Homo sapiens: one gene and its partner. The protein of the gene in region 1 interacts with the protein of each later gene in a pairwise test. Each region holds a gene or a part of one and is shown in the gene's direction. Other genes may lie near its edges.

Region 1 (7,019 bases):
TGGGGCTATGTCTGTGGTTTAAAACAAAATCCCTTGAAGTGGAGCGTCCAGCTTGCCCTGCATCTGGGGTCCTTCATAGGGAACCCTAATTATTGTTGATGAACAGCACATTCCTGGGGTGCTTAAGATGCAGGGAGCCGATTTGTGGCCTCGCCCAGTGGCCAGTAGGGAGAGGAGGATGAGGGGACAGCCACTGGGGGCTCCACAGTCAGCTGGAAATCTCTGAAAGGAACACTTCAAAGAAGTGTGTGGAATTTGGGTTCTCTTGCGTTGGAACTACCATGCAGAGCTCCAGGACCAAAGCCTCGGTCAGGAGCAGGAGTGGTGCTGAGTAGAAACAATGGCGCCCAGTGCTTCCCAGCCTGGCCACGTGGGGAGAAACAAAACACGCCTCCTCTCATGGCCCTCCAAAGTCTTTTTGGGCCACCTTATTTGGACACTTAATGGGAGTTATTATTATTGTTATTTTGAGATGGAGTTTCGCTCTGTCTCCCAGGCTGGAGTACAGTGATGCCATCTCCGCTCACTGCAGCCTCCACCTCCCAAGTTCAAGTGATTCTCCTGCCTCAGCCTCTCGAGCAGCTGAGACTACAGGTGCCCGCCACCATGCTTAGCTAATTTTTGTATTTTTGTAGAGATGGGATTTCACCATGTTGTCCAGGCTGGTCTCGAACTTCTGACCTTAGGTGATCTGCCCATCTTGGCCTCCCAAAGTGCTGGGATTACAGGCATGAGCCACCACATCCGGCCTTAAAGGGAGTTATTAATTCCCTCCTGCCCCAGAAGTGCCGGGCGGGAAAGCTCTGGACGCAGTATTTCTGAAGCAGATTGGACAGAAATCTGCAGGCCTGCAAACTGCAGTCAACAAAACGCCATTGAGCAGAGAGAATGGAGCATTTGGCACAAATCAGCTGCTTGCCCTCTGGCCCTGGAGGAGGCAGCCAGGGTCAAGGCTGCCCTGGGAAGCCCTGATGCTGGTCGCTTGTTGAGCCCTCAGCCCGGTTACTGGCTTCCCTCCTTGACATGGTCTCAACTGGACATGAGCCTTTGTCCCCAGCTCTGTCCTATGGGCCAGCATCTCTTTGGCTCTGCAGAGGTGAGTGGAAGGCGCTCTAACTGCGGATGCTCAGAGCCTGGCTTTGTAAAGTAGCTTGCCACCCTTACTAACTGCACAACCTTGGGCAAGCTCCTGGCCTTCTCCAGGCCCATTTTCACATTAGCAAGAGAGGAATAATGGCCATCTTCACAGTGTTCTGAGAGGATTACATGAAATAATGTATGTAAAGTGTTTGGCATGGTGCCTGGCACATGCTGCATCCGTAGTAAAAAGGTAGCTTCTGCTCTGGTGTGCTAGAAACCCCCTGCCAGCCTTGCTTGGTGAGGTTATTTGCATCCATTTTTGTGCACACTGGTGGTATGCAGGCCCTCTGCTAGGTGCCAAGCCTTGTCAGGCTTAGTGCCTGCCCTGGTAGAAAAGACAAAGCAAGGCCCCCAGGAGCTGATTGGAGGTCATTACCAGGGGTCCTGCTTAATTATAGCCCAGTTATTAAGTGCTCCTGATTCAGCCTTTTCAAAGTCCTCCTTTGCCTGAAGAACCTCCTCTGCATGGGGCTGGACCATGCCTCTCCCTGCCTGCCCTTCACTGGTTCTGCTCTGCCTTCAGCACAACCCACATCCAGCTGGTGTTGAAATACCTCTGTGCCAACCCAGGAGAGCGCTAAACTTGCACAACTTTTGGGGCATATCTGGATATACCAGCATGTTCATCCTCTAGGCAAGAGACAGAGGGTGGCACGGGGCCTGGAGAAAAGGCTAGACTCGGGTCATGTCATCAATCACTCCTTCCTTTATCTTCTTAGAGCCTGTTGCCTCTCACTCCACCCCCATGGGTGCTCAGGCTGGCGCAGGACTCAGGGGGCCTCTGATGTGGCCCTCCCTGGGGATCGGGGCAACAGGAACAACACAACGCGAGACTCCTGTGGTCGAGGCCTGCCTTCCCTCAGATTAGCTTTTTGGGAAGTCTGCTCCCTTGGACTGCATTCTCCATGCTTTTCCCCAGCTGGTTTCCCTGCCCCTCCTCTTCACATTCTGACCTCCCTGTGCTGGATGTGGGACAGCTATCCTGTCTGTAAGATAAGATAATTAAAAGCCTGGTGGCTCTTTCCCTGCTGCCACCAAGTCATGCAGAGACGGAGGCTCAGGCTCAGTTGCGTTCAAGATTCGGCTTCACCCGTAACCCACTGCCATGGCCGAGGAAGGCATTGCTGCTGGAGGGGTAATGGACATTAATGCTGCTTTACAAGAGCTGTTGAAGACAGCCCTCATCCACGATGGCCTAGCACATGGAATTCGCAAAGCTACCAAAGCCTTAGACAAGCGCCAAGCCCATCTTTGTGTGCTTGCATCCAACGGTGATGAGACTGTGTATGTCAAGTTGGTGGAAGCCCTTTGTGCTGAGCACCAAATCAACCTAATTAAGGTTGATGACAAAAGAAACTGGGGGAATGGGTAGGTCTCTGTCAAATTGACAGAGAGGGGAAACCCCGTAAAGTGGTTGGTTGCAGTTGTATAGTAGTTAAGGACTATGGCAAGGAGTCTCAGGCCAAGCATGTCATCAGAGAGAACTTCTAATGCAAGAAATGAAGAAAATATCTTTGGCTCACAAAAAAAACAAAAAAAGCCTGGTGCCCACAGCGGCTCTATACTTATTAGCTCACCATCGACCCTCTTCTGGGCACTGAATACTGGAACACTAAGGGGTGGCTCCTGCCCTGTGGCAGAGATGGTCACAGAAGAGTAGAGTGGCTACAGAGTGATACACAGAGGTGGAGTGTTCTGTCCAGCTGCTAGAGTTCTGCCTCCCAGGCCTGTGATCTGACTTGTTGTGCATGGAAGCTCTATTCTGCACTCCTGGATCCATCTGGAAGCCCATCCTGTAGTCTTAACAGGCTTCCGAGAGGTGGGGGGCCTGTGGCGAGGGGGTTTCAGTGGGGATGGTAGGTAGGAGACAGAAGCCATCATTTTACCATACTCCTAAAGAGGAGCCAAATTAGCCAACTCGTGTCCTCTTTTTTGGCATCTTTTGGCCCATCCTCTAGGAAGGGGGCCAACTGGAAGAGCAAATAAAAGCGGCCATTGCGGTGCACTCCCTGTGTGCCAGGCACTGCTGTTGGATGTGGAAGTGCATTGCTTTATCTCATGCAGATGAGGAAACCAAAGCTCAGTGAAGCTAACTCATTATCAAGGTCATGCAGCTATAGAAGAGTTTGGGACCAAGCCTTGGGCCACAGTTCTCGATTCAGCAACCACATTCTTTCCATTAGAACAGCTGCCTCCTGCTTCACCTGTGAATCGTACAAAAGCAGCAAGATGACCCGGCTCAGCCCTTGAATAATTGCAGGTTATATTTTTCCATCTGTTAAAGAAATCTGTTGAGGTCAGTCTCTGGACGGGGCAGGGGATCCAGCCGAGGCCCCTGGTTGCATGGCCATAGTTGGGAAGAGGGCAGAGCTGGCAGACATGTGGCACACAGGAGACTGAGGCACACATCTCAGACAGAAGTTTGCAAACTGAAGGGTAGTGGGCCACAGCCAGCCTGGAGATACATTTTGTTTGACTTCCAAGTTCTTTAGAAAAATTTTAATTAGGCCAGGTGCGGTGGCTCACGCCTATAATCCCAGCACTTTGGGAGGCCGAGGCGGGTGGACCACTTGAGGTCAGGAGTTTCGAGACCAGCCTGGCCAACGTGGTGAAACCCCATCTCTACTAAAAATAGAAAAATTAACTGGGCATGGTGGCAGGCACCTGTAATCCCAGCTACTCAGGAGGCTAAGGGAGGAGAATCACTTGAACCTGGGAGACAGGGGTTGCAGTGAGCCGAGATCATGCCATTGCACTCCAGCCTGGAAGACAAGAGCAAAACTCCATCTCAAAAAAAAAAAAAGAAAGAAAAATTTTAATTAGTTGCTGATATTTAAAACTTAGGAAATTTTACATAAAAATCTAGGTTTCCAGCTTTTCTGAAGGTCTGGTAAGGTTGGACCCCCATTCCGTGTAGCAGCACGTGTCTGGGGCCTAAGTCTTGCGTGTGAAAAAGGGCTAGAGTAAAAGTAGAAGGCAAGAAGCAAGGGGAGGAGTAGGGAGCATGGGGAGAACCCATCTTGATTATTGATGGTCACTGACCCCTAATCTTTGCAGAGCTTTGCACTGCCACGTACTGTGTTTATTTAGTCTTCTCAGCAATCCTGCAAGGCAGCCCTCTCAGGACTGAGAATTTGTTCGGGGTTGCACAGTGGGTCAGTGATCAAGTGAGGATTCACACACATGTCTTGTGCCCCTTCCAGTCCGTGAAGCTTGTTTCTTGTCTCCCTACCATACTTTCAGCTGTCATACTTCCACCTGTCATACTTAATTCTTTTTTTCTTTTTCTTTTTTTTTTTTGAGATGGGGTCTCACTCTGTCACCCAGGCTGCAGTGGTGAGATCTTGGCTCACTGCAACCTCCACCTCCCAGGCTTAAGCGATCTTCCCACCTCAGCCTCCTGAGTAGCTGGGACCTCAGGCATATGCCACCATGCCCAGCTAATTTTTGCATTCTTGGTAGAGACAGGGTTTCATCATGTTGCCCAGGCTGGTCTCGAGCTCCTGTCAGCTGTTATACTTCTATGTGTTCAGTGCTTTTGGGAGGGGTCAGAGTGGTAGCAGTGCTTCTCAGACACACTTTTGTGAGTGTGATGCTTCAGGACCTCCACGTTGCCCCATTTTTATCTGGGGCCCCTCTCTGGGCTGGAGCACTCTCACTGGGACTGTGTCATTCATTTGTTTAGTCAACAAACATTTATGGAACAACTGCTGGGAGCTCACCTGACCAGTTGATACAAATATGAATAAGACATGGTCTTGATCTTGAAGATGCTGTCAGCTTGGTGGAAAAGAAGAGCACAAAGACCGGGCGCGGTGGCTCACACCTGTAATCCCAACACTTTGGGAGGCCGAGGCAGGCGGATCAGCTGAGGTCAGGAGTTCAAGACCAGCCTGGCCAACATGGTGAAACCCCATCTCTACTAAAAAAATATATATATATATACAAAAATTAGCCGGGCATGATGGCGGGTGCCTGTAATTCCGGCTACTCAGGAGGCTGAGGCTGAGGCGGAAGAATCGCTTGAACCCAAGGTTCAAGGTTGCAGTGAGCCAAGATCATGCCATTGCACTCTAGCCTGGGCGACAGAGCAAGACTGTCTTAAAAAAAAAAGAGAGAAGAGCGCAGAAAGACCCTCCTCATCATCATCAAACATCAAACATTGCCATCATCCGACAGTGTCACCAGTGCACTACAAGACGTGTGAACAGGAAATGATGGGCATACGGAGAAGGGCCCTTGCCCAGCCGGGGATCCAGGAAGGCCTCCTGGAGGAGGTGGAACTGAGCCAAGTCTCAAAGGATGAGTGTGAGTTAGTCAAAAGGAAAGCCTTCTGGGTGGAGGGGACTTCCTGAACAGACCGGAGATGAGAGAATTGGGCCCTTGAGTTGCAGTTCCATGTCACTTGGTCGAACCAAGAGGTGGGTGGGTGGCAAGCACTAGCAAGTTAGGAGCTTGGACGACGGGGTGCTATTGAAGTTTTTAGGCAGAACAGTGACGGCTCCCAGAGAGCCCTCTGGCTGCAGCATAGCAGCTGGCCTGGAGATGGGAGGCTGGTTGGGAGGCTGCTGTGATGGTGGCCTAGGTGAGAGAGGATGGTGCCAGGCTCAGGACTGCGGTAGTGGGGATGGTGAGGGGAATGGATTTGGAAAATATTGAGAGAAAATTGGCAGGATTTGATTATAGACTGGACTTCTGAGGAAGGAGGATGGTGAGACACCCAGGTGAGTGGTGCCACACACAAACACAAAATGCCAAGCCAGGGAGTGGGACTGGAAGGGGGCGGTGAGGTGGTGGGAGGCACCCACAGAGGCCCTTCTGCACTGTGGGGTCTGGTGTGTTGGAGGAAGATCTGCACTTGGATGAGGAGATTTGGGGATCGCCAGCATCCGCGTCATTGAAGTGATGAGCATGGACGTGTGACCCAGGGGCTTGAACGGAGTTAAGAAGAGCAGGGCCAGGAGCAGACAGACCTAGAGAGCAAGAACATTCAGGAGCAAAGCCTGAGGCAGGAGGGTGGTCATCAACACAGATGCTGCAGCCAGGTGGCCCAGGGTCGGGCGGCATCCCCACCACTCCTCCCGGGGATGACTTGCACCTGAAACAGAGGTAATAAAACACAGCAGCCTTGTGAGGATGACATGACTTAATCCGTTTAAAGGGCTGAGAAAGTGCTCACATACTTTAGCTCTTTGAGGGCTAGAGGCCCAGAAGGCATGTGAGGGAGACACGGAGTGATGCTTGAGACTGGGGGCACAGGTACCTAGAGGACGGGGTGGCGTGGCCCGTGTCTGGGGTCTGTCAGCGAGGCGATCCCTGGGCTCTTGGCAGGGCTGGCACTGCTGAACGTGGGGCTGGCTGAGGCCCAACTTCTGTGGAGGAGTGAGTGGAAGGTGAGAGGCAGAGATGGCATGGGGTGGCTGTTCTCTTTGGGAGCTTGTCTAAGGCAGGTGGAGGGAGGCACAAAAGTTTCTAGAATGGACATTGGAACAAAAACTGCTTTCTGACAGGTAGAGTTGGTGACATAGGATTTGGTCTCTGAGGAGATGGGGTGGGAAGTTGAGGTTGTTTATGCCTGATGACCCCGATTTCCTTGGAAGAAGTGGAGACATCTATAAAAGCAGGAAGGCAGACCCAGGGCAGAGGCCCTAGAAGCCGGGTTGTTAGAGGGGAGCCAGCCCCTGAGCAGAGGGACTGAGCGTGTCCCTGTGTAGACCTGTGAGCAGGCAGGCGGCAGGCAGGCTCCTAAGGTGACGGCAGTGGTCTGTGCACCCATGGCACAGGCCCTAGGTCGGGACTGGGACTGCCTGGGGGTTCTGGCAGAGGCTCTTCGTCTGCCCACTTGGGGCTGTAGCAATGGCTTTCCGGGGCATGCCCCA
Region 2 (7,890 bases), on another chromosome or scaffold:
GTTCAGTGGCACTATCTCGGCTCCCTGCAACTTCCGCCTCCCAGGTTCAAGCGATTCTCCTGCCTCAGCCTCCCAATTAGCTGAGATTACAGGCATGCGCCACCACACCCAGCTAATTTTTGTATTTTTAGAAGTGAATGGTTTTCACCATGTTGGCAAGGCTGGTCTTGAACTCCTGACCTCAAGTGACCTGCCCGCCTTGGCCTCCCAAAGTGCTGAGATTGTTTTGAAATAAAGCTGCTATTAAGCAATTCTTCTAATAATGCAACTAACTCCTCTTTATAATTCTATTTTCATTTTAAAATTTAAAATCACTAAGTTGTCACCAGGACAGCCTCAAGTATTATTTTAGAAATAAATTTCATAAGGCTATAGCTGCCATAGTGATTTCTCTGATGGATAAGGGCAAAGCAAATTGAAAACCTTCTGGAAGGGATTCACCATTCTAGCTGCCATTCAGAATATGTGTGACTCATGGGAGGTCAAAGTGTCAACATTAACTGGAGTTTGGAAGAAGCTGATTCCAACCCTCTTGGATGACTTCGAGGGGTTCAAGACTTCAGTGAAGGAAGTTACTGCAGATGTAGTAAAAATAGCAAGAGAACTAGAATTAGAAGTGGAGCCTGAGGATGTGACTGAATTGCTGCAATATTACAATAAAACTTGAATGGAGAAGGAGTTGCTGCTCATGGATAAGCAAAGAAAGTGGTTTCTTGAGACGGAATCTACTCCTCATGAAGATGCTATGAACACTGCTGAAATGACAAAAAAGATTTAGAATATTACATAAATTTAGATGATAAAGCATTAGCAGGTTTTGAGAGGACTGACTAATTTTGAAAGAAGTTCTGTGGACAAAATGCTATCAAACAGCATTGCATGGTACAGAGAAATCTTTCATGAAAGGGAGATTCAATTTATGTGACAAACTCTATCTTTGTCTTAAGAAATTGCCACAACCACCTCCGCCTTCAGCCACCACCATGCTGATCAGTCAGCAGCCATGAATGTCGAGACAAGACTCTCCACTGACAAAAAGATTATGACTTACTGAAGGCTCAGATGATCATTAGCACTTTTTAGCAGTATTTTTAAATTAATGTGTGTATATTTTTCAGAATAATGCTACTGTGCACTTATTTAAATGTAATTACAAGTTATGTTTAGACTATAATTGAGAACTTATGTTTAGAGTATAATATACTGTAAACATAACTTTTACATGCACTGGGAAACCAAAAAATTGGTGTGACTTGCTTTATTGGGATATTTGCTTTATTGTGGTAATCTGGAACAAAACCCACGGTATCTCTAGGTTATGCCAGTAATTTAAAGGTAGGACAAGCAACATGTTCTGATGGCTTGGATATGATGCAAGAAGGACAGAAGTGGATTGAAGTGAAGAATGACTCCAGGGTTTTTGGCCTGAGCAACCAGAACAATGGAGCGCCACAGGGATTGGGCCTAGTGAGGCAGGGAGTTTAATTTTTGACGTGTTTAATTTGAGGTATCTATGAGACACTCAGTCAAATGGGCAAGTCGTTCAGGCAATGTAAAAGCAGAAAAAGAAGGCAGTAGCTAAAGGAGGGAGAATATAAGGTCAAAAGGTTTTGGCTTTACTTTTCAAAGGTGAGAACTAGTAAAGCAAGTTTTTGTGCACATGGAAGTGTTTCCTGGAGAGGAAAGAGGTCATGATGAAGGACAGAGAGAGAAAACTGTTGGAGCCCATGTCTTGAGTAGGTTAGAGGTAGGATCTGCTCCGCCAGTGGAGAGGCTGGCCTTAGACAGGAGTATGGGCAGATGGGCCATCCATTGTATCGAGAGGGAAGGCAAGGTGTGCAGGGACAGATGCAGGGAGACTGTGGAAGTTTTCCTGTGGTTGCTTCTTTTTTCTCAGTGAAATAAGCATGTAGCTCAGCAGCTGAGAGTGCTACATGCTAGCAGATGCATGTAGGAGAGATGTGACAAGAGGTTTTCAGATTGAGCAGAATGTTTGAAATGGTCTAGGACAGTGGTTTTTCAGTTCATAATCTGATAGAGGGTGTTAAAACCAACTTTGTAATTTGAGATCAAACGTGATTTTAAAATGAAAATAGAATTATAAAAAGGAGTTTGTTGCATTATTAAAAGAATTGCTTAATAGCAGCTTTATTTCAGTTGCATGAGTGTGTACTTGCACATATATTGGGTTGTAGCAAAAATACTTTTAAAAATACTTGCCCAGGACAGTGGGAGTAAATGAATAAGGGACTGTCAAATACAAAGTCAAGGTCCTAGTTAATGATCATGAGTCAAAATATTTTCATGTAAAAAACCAAAAAAATCATTGAATGGACTCATAAGATCTTGGCATGGAAACTGCTAGAGGACCATAGTCCCTCCTCAGTATTTGCTGCTCCTTCTCCCTACCCCACTCCACTCTCCACCCTAGGAAACCTTTTCATTTGAATATTTTCAATAAGGGCAAGATCACCAGCTTACAAGATGTCAGAAAGTAACTTTCTGCTCTAAAAAAATGGGGCCCTCACAAAAGTAGTGAGTAGAGGCCCTGGCAGGATTTGGAATTTGGTGTATTTAATATGAAGTTTGACATTATTATGTAATAACAAACTTGATGGCTTTTCCCCGTTTCAGAGAGCTCTAAATCCTCTAAGACAAAACTAGTACCAGAGCACTAAGAAATCTTGTTTTTGTTCAAAACTCTAGCCCAGAAAGGCACCAGTTAGCTTTTAAAAGTATGTGCTCTCTCCTCTTTACTAACTGCGGTGTTAGTGGATAATTGAGCTAAGGTTTATACCTGTATTTTCCCCCTATTTCAAGATTTGTTGTTGGATCTGCAAATGATTCCAATCAAATACAACTGTACTTGGAAAAAAATCATCCGTTGTTAAGACTTTACATTCCTTAGTTGCAGAAGTAGTTTTTTTTCCTGCACAATACCTTTTAAAAAATGAATATTTAATATGTCAATATATACTCTGAAAATAACCATTTATATTTTAAATTCTGAGCTCAGGTTATTTTCTAGACATTGTAATTTAGAATAAAAATACTTCTCCAGTTCTACATTTTGCCTGACTGTTAAAAATGATTTTGAGATTAATAAGTTGAACCAATTTTCTATTCACCTGACCAAATTCTGAACCATTTGAGTTTTTTAAAAAGTACTTTTTCCTTATTGTAAAGGCAACATAAAACTTGGTTCATTGGACAGGATAGCAGAGATAAACATTATACATGAAGTATAGTTCCCTGGGGCAATGTTGCTCTCTTTCTACCATGTTTATTTCGATTTATATAAATTTGAGACACTGAACAGAAGTAGAATTCAAATAGAGAATGAGGACTTATAAAAATGTACACTCTGCCTACATCAGTAAGAGTATGCTAATTTATAAAATTAAATATTTAATCTTAGTTCACTTGTAAACCAAAATCAAGTAAAGTCTGAATCCACCTTCTATTGCTTTGGGGGTTTGAGTCTATATTCTAGGATTCATTTAATAGTTTCATTTCTCTAAGCATCAAGCAAAACAGTTAAAATTACAAAACAGAAACATAAAGTTCACCTCATCATGTAGTATGGATCACTCTGTTATTCTTTATCTAGACCTTCAAATACTTTATGTAAAATGTTTCTATACAAAAGGAAACACAGGATTAGTTCCTCCTCTAATGCTTCTAAAGAGCTCTACCATGGAAAGCTCTCTCCCTTCCATTTTGCAAGTCTCAACAAGTCTGCTGCTGAGTCAGAACCTCCTTTTTTCCCTGATGTAAGAACTATTTCTCCCTTGAAAATTCATAAAGCTTAGGAATAAATTAGAGTCTCCCTGGGGGGAAGGGGCGGGGACGCCGGAATGAATGTGGTGGGGAGGAGTCCCACGCTGCAGCCCTGATGGCACACGAAAGGCTTTTATGAAGCGGAGCTGGCCCGGGGTTACTATGGGAGCTCGCCGTGGAACCCGTTCCACGCATCCGAGTGTGTAAATAACCACGCGGAGCGTGTTTGTTCCAGGGACTTTGTTCCTTCTTACCCAAGTGAAAATGCCTGGAATATAGCCGAGGCTTCATGTTTACCCTACAGAAACACCCTCGGCGGCTCTACGACGTCGGTGACAGCACTCCTACCAGCGCCTAAAAACAGAAACAAGCTTAGAGGGCGCTACCTAGGGCTACAAGGAGGCCCTAGATCGGGGACTCGGGGTCTAGAGGTGCGCGGCGAGGCGCTCAGCGGACTTCAAGCCGGCAGAGCCCAGACGCTAGTTCACCACAGGACCCCCGGGCTGGGCCGGGCTCCCGCGTTGCGCTGGGGGCCCCTCGGGCGCCTATTTCTACGCGGGTCGCACAGTGCAGGCGCCGGTCGGGGTCCCGGGCCTCAGTTTCCCCCGCGGGCCAGCCCCGCTCTGGGAAGCCCGAGTGGTGCAGCAGGGCTTCTCCCCACCCAGGGCGGAACCGAGGTGACAGGAAGGAGGAGGCACCGCGAGGGGCGGAGACGCGTGCGACCCAGGCAGACTCTGCGCGGATCCCGCGCCAAGGAGGGGCCGTTGCCCAGGAACCGTCCCTCCCTCCCGCGCGTGCTTGCCCTCGTGCGCGCGCCCGCCCAATGCTCCCGACCACTGTTTGCCAGCCGACCCCCACCCCAACCGGCCTGTCCATTTCCCCGGGAGCGGAGAGACCCAACGGGACACGCCGCTCGCTCCCGCCCTCCCGGGAGCGCGAGCGCGCCCTCGGCTGCGTCTGCATAGTAATGAGGGGCGGGGAGGGGCGACGGGGACGCGGTGGCCTCGCGCCCGCGCGTGCCGGGACGCACCGCGGGGGGCGGCGCGATTGTGAGGTGGCGCTGACGCACGTTCCGGGGTTCTTAAGCGGCCAGGGCGGCTACGGCGACTGCGACGGCGGCGGCGGCGGCGATCGCCGCGAGGGGTGGTGGGGCCGAAGTCGGTGCCCCCTGGCTCAGTCACGGTGTCCCTCTCTCACTGACTCCCCCTCCTTCCACCACGGCCGCGCAACCCCAGCGCCGGCGGCTTCCTAGGTGGGGCAGGGGACGAGGAGCGTCTCCTCCCGCTGCCGGCGGCCTGATAAATGAGGGATTTCGGGTTTGGGGTGCTGCAGACCGCCCCGCTCCGAAGTAGCAGTCCTGGGCCCCTGTTCTGCGGCGAGGCGTATGGTCCTTACGCCGTGGGGTCCGTCAACCCGCTGCCCTCCGCCACGCCCTTCGGCCCACTGTCGCCACCACCGTTGCCTGTCACCGGCTTCTTAGAGGCCGCCTCCCCCTTCTCCGTCCCCCTCGGCGGCGGCGCGGGCAGCCCGGCCGCCGCCGCTTCCTCTTCCTCCCCGTTCCTGGCGCATCAGCAGACCATGCAGGATGAGCTGCTTCTGGGGCTGACACAGCAGCCGGCGCGGCCGCTTTCGGGGGCGGCGGCCACGGAGAAACTCCCCGACCACCACCCCGGCGGCGGCACGATCGCGGGTGTGACCCACCTCCTCCCCTCCCAGGACTTCAAACCGAGTCTGCACCACCCCTCCTCCTCCTCCGCCTCCTCCTGCTGCTGCTGCCGCACCTCCTCCCCGCAGGACTTCAGTAAGCGGCAGCAGCAGCAGCTGAGCAGCCAGAAGAGGAAAGAGTTCAGCCCTCCCCACCTTCCCCACCCTCCGGACTCGAAGCCGCCGCCGCCGCCTCCGCCGCTCCACTGCCCCGGTCGGTTCAGCCCGCCGCCGCCGCCAGCCGGCCCGCTCCTCCAGCCGGCGCAGCTCGCTCAGCGCCAGCAGCAACAGCCGCCGCAGCAGTTCAGCCTCCTGCATCAGCAGCACCTCTCGCCGCAGGACTTCGCCCCGCGGCAGCGTCCGGCAGACCTGCCCCCGCTCCCGCAGCTCCCTCCCTCGCCGCCTGCAGCCCCGCGGCGCCGCCACGGAGGCGCGGGCAGCCCTCGCAAGACCCCAGCCGCGGGCGAGGGCAGCGCCGCCGAGTCCCCCAATGCGGGCTTGGCCTCCTCGACGCCGGTGAACCCCGCGCCGGGCTCCATGGAGTCCCCCAACCACCCTCTGCTCAACAGTCCCAGTAACCTCCTGCCCGGAGGTGCGCTTGGCGCGGGCGCCTTCAGCAGCCTGCAGAGCCCGGACCTTCCACACCCGGGCGGCGGCGGCGGCGGCGGGGGCGGGGGGCCCCCAGGAGGCGGAGGGGGAGGCGGCTCCGCGTCGCCGCCGCCGCTGCCCGGCTTCGGCACCCCCTGGTCGGTGCAGACCGCGTCGCCGCCACCCCAGCCCCAGCAGCCGCCGCCGACCCAGCCGCAGCAGCAGCCGCCGCCACCCCAGCAGCCGCCCCAGCCGCAGCCGCAGCCGCCCGGCTCGTCTGCCACCACCCCGGGCGGCGGCAGCGGCGGCTCGCTCAGCGCCATGCCGCCGCCCAGCCCCGACTCAGAGAACGGCTTCTACCCCGGGCTGCCGTCGTCCATGAACCCGGCCTTCTTCCCTAGCTTCTCGCCCGTGTCGCCGCACGGCTGCACTGGGCTCAGCGTTCCGACGAGCGGCGGCGGCGGCGGCGGCTTCGGCGGCCCCTTCTCGGCTACCGCTGTGCCCCCTCCGCCGCCGCCCGCCATGAATATACCTCAACAGCAGCCCCCGCCGCCCGCGGCGCCGCAGCAGCCGCAGAGCCGGAGGTCGCCCGTCAGCCCGCAGCTCCAGCAGCAGCACCAGGCGGCGGCCGCCGCCTTCCTGCAGCAGAGGAACTCCTATAACCACCACCAGGTACGGCGGGCGGCGGCCTGGCCGCGCCGCGGGACCGGGAGACCATGGGCGGGGGACGGAGGCGGGGGCAGGGCAGCCGGGGACCCGACCTTAGCCCCGAGAGAAGCCGCGACGGGGGCCACTCGCCCAAGTGAGAGTGGAACTGAGGGCGGACAACCGTGACAGGACTCGGAACCCCAGCCCCCGGTGGGTTGGGAGGGCAGTGGCCACCGTGGGCTGTGGGGGCGTGGGAGACGAGTTCGCGCTGGGAGCCGCGGCTGGCCGGGCGCCCCCTCGAACGTCCCGGCGCAGCAGTGGGGACTGGGGCAGGGGCCGAATAGCGCCGGGGCCGCGGGCGGCCGGGCGCGGCGTCTCAACCCGGCCCTCCTAGCTGGCGCACCCCGGGATCCGCCCTGTGCCCTGGGCCTGGAGGGCCGCCGCCCCGGACCCCCGACGCGGGGAGGCGCGGCGAGGACCGGGGGCTGGCCGGGGGCCTCGGAAGAGCGGCCGTGGGAAGTGAACTTGGGCAGGGGAAAAATGATTGCTGGAGAAGGTGCGTGCGGAGGAGCCCAAGACTCTGTCTCGCTGTCCAATGAGGGAAGGCGGAAAGGCTTTTTTTTTTCTTTGGAGTTTGTTTATTCTTATTTGGCCGGCGGTGATCTCGCCTTGAAGCCTCAGCCCCTCGGGCGGTCAGTCGAGCCGCTCCCAAAGCTCCGCCCGATCAACCTGCTGGCAGCGCCGCACCCTGGGCCGCCGGCCCAGGAGGGAGTCGGGAGGGAGCGGCCGACCGCCCTCCTCGCAGGACCTGGTTCCCGCGGGGCCGCCTCCTTGGCTGTCACAGGACTGGGAAAGAGAAACTGTTAGTGACCGCTCGGGTTCAAACCGAGATATCCCACGAATGTCTTAGTTTCTGTGCTTTTCAATGTTGGGGTCATGTTTTGTGGGTTTTAAGACAAAACTGAACTTGGATCTGGGATTGGTGTGTTTCCTCGTAGACTTTCGGTACATTTTTTGGTTGCCTTAACCTTCTACAAGGGAATATGTGGGCCGTGTGTATTTTAAGTAGGTAATATTGTGAAATGACACTGGGCAGAATTTTTATTTTCCGGATCTTTTTTGATTCAAGATCTTTTTTGTTATTCCCTCAATACAATTTTTGGGTGACCG

Evidence for each region.
Region 2: the proteins of SEMA4B (region 1) and CPEB2 interact in a two-hybrid assay, tested with the Homo sapiens proteins (one study listed by BioGRID).

Annotation. Positions count from the first base shown.
Region 1 is NC_000015.10:90,204,325-90,211,343, forward strand, and holds part of SEMA4B (semaphorin-4B isoform 1 precursor), read left to right. Parts: intron 1-2,157; exon of another isoform or gene 2,158-2,664; intron 2,665-7,019. UniProt on the Homo sapiens protein: Inhibits axonal extension by providing local signals to specify territories inaccessible for growing axons.
Region 2 is NC_000004.12:14,997,592-15,005,481, forward strand, and holds the start of CPEB2 (cytoplasmic polyadenylation element-binding protein 2), read left to right. Parts: upstream 1-4,889; 5' UTR 4,890-5,082; coding exon 5,083-6,744; intron 6,745-6,906; exon of another isoform or gene 6,907-6,930; intron 6,931-7,253; exon of another isoform or gene 7,254-7,276; intron 7,277-7,350; exon of another isoform or gene 7,351-7,566; intron 7,567-7,890. UniProt on the Homo sapiens protein: May play a role in translational regulation of stored mRNAs in transcriptionally inactive haploid spermatids. Binds to poly(U) RNA oligomers. Required for cell cycle progression, specifically for the transition from metaphase to anaphase.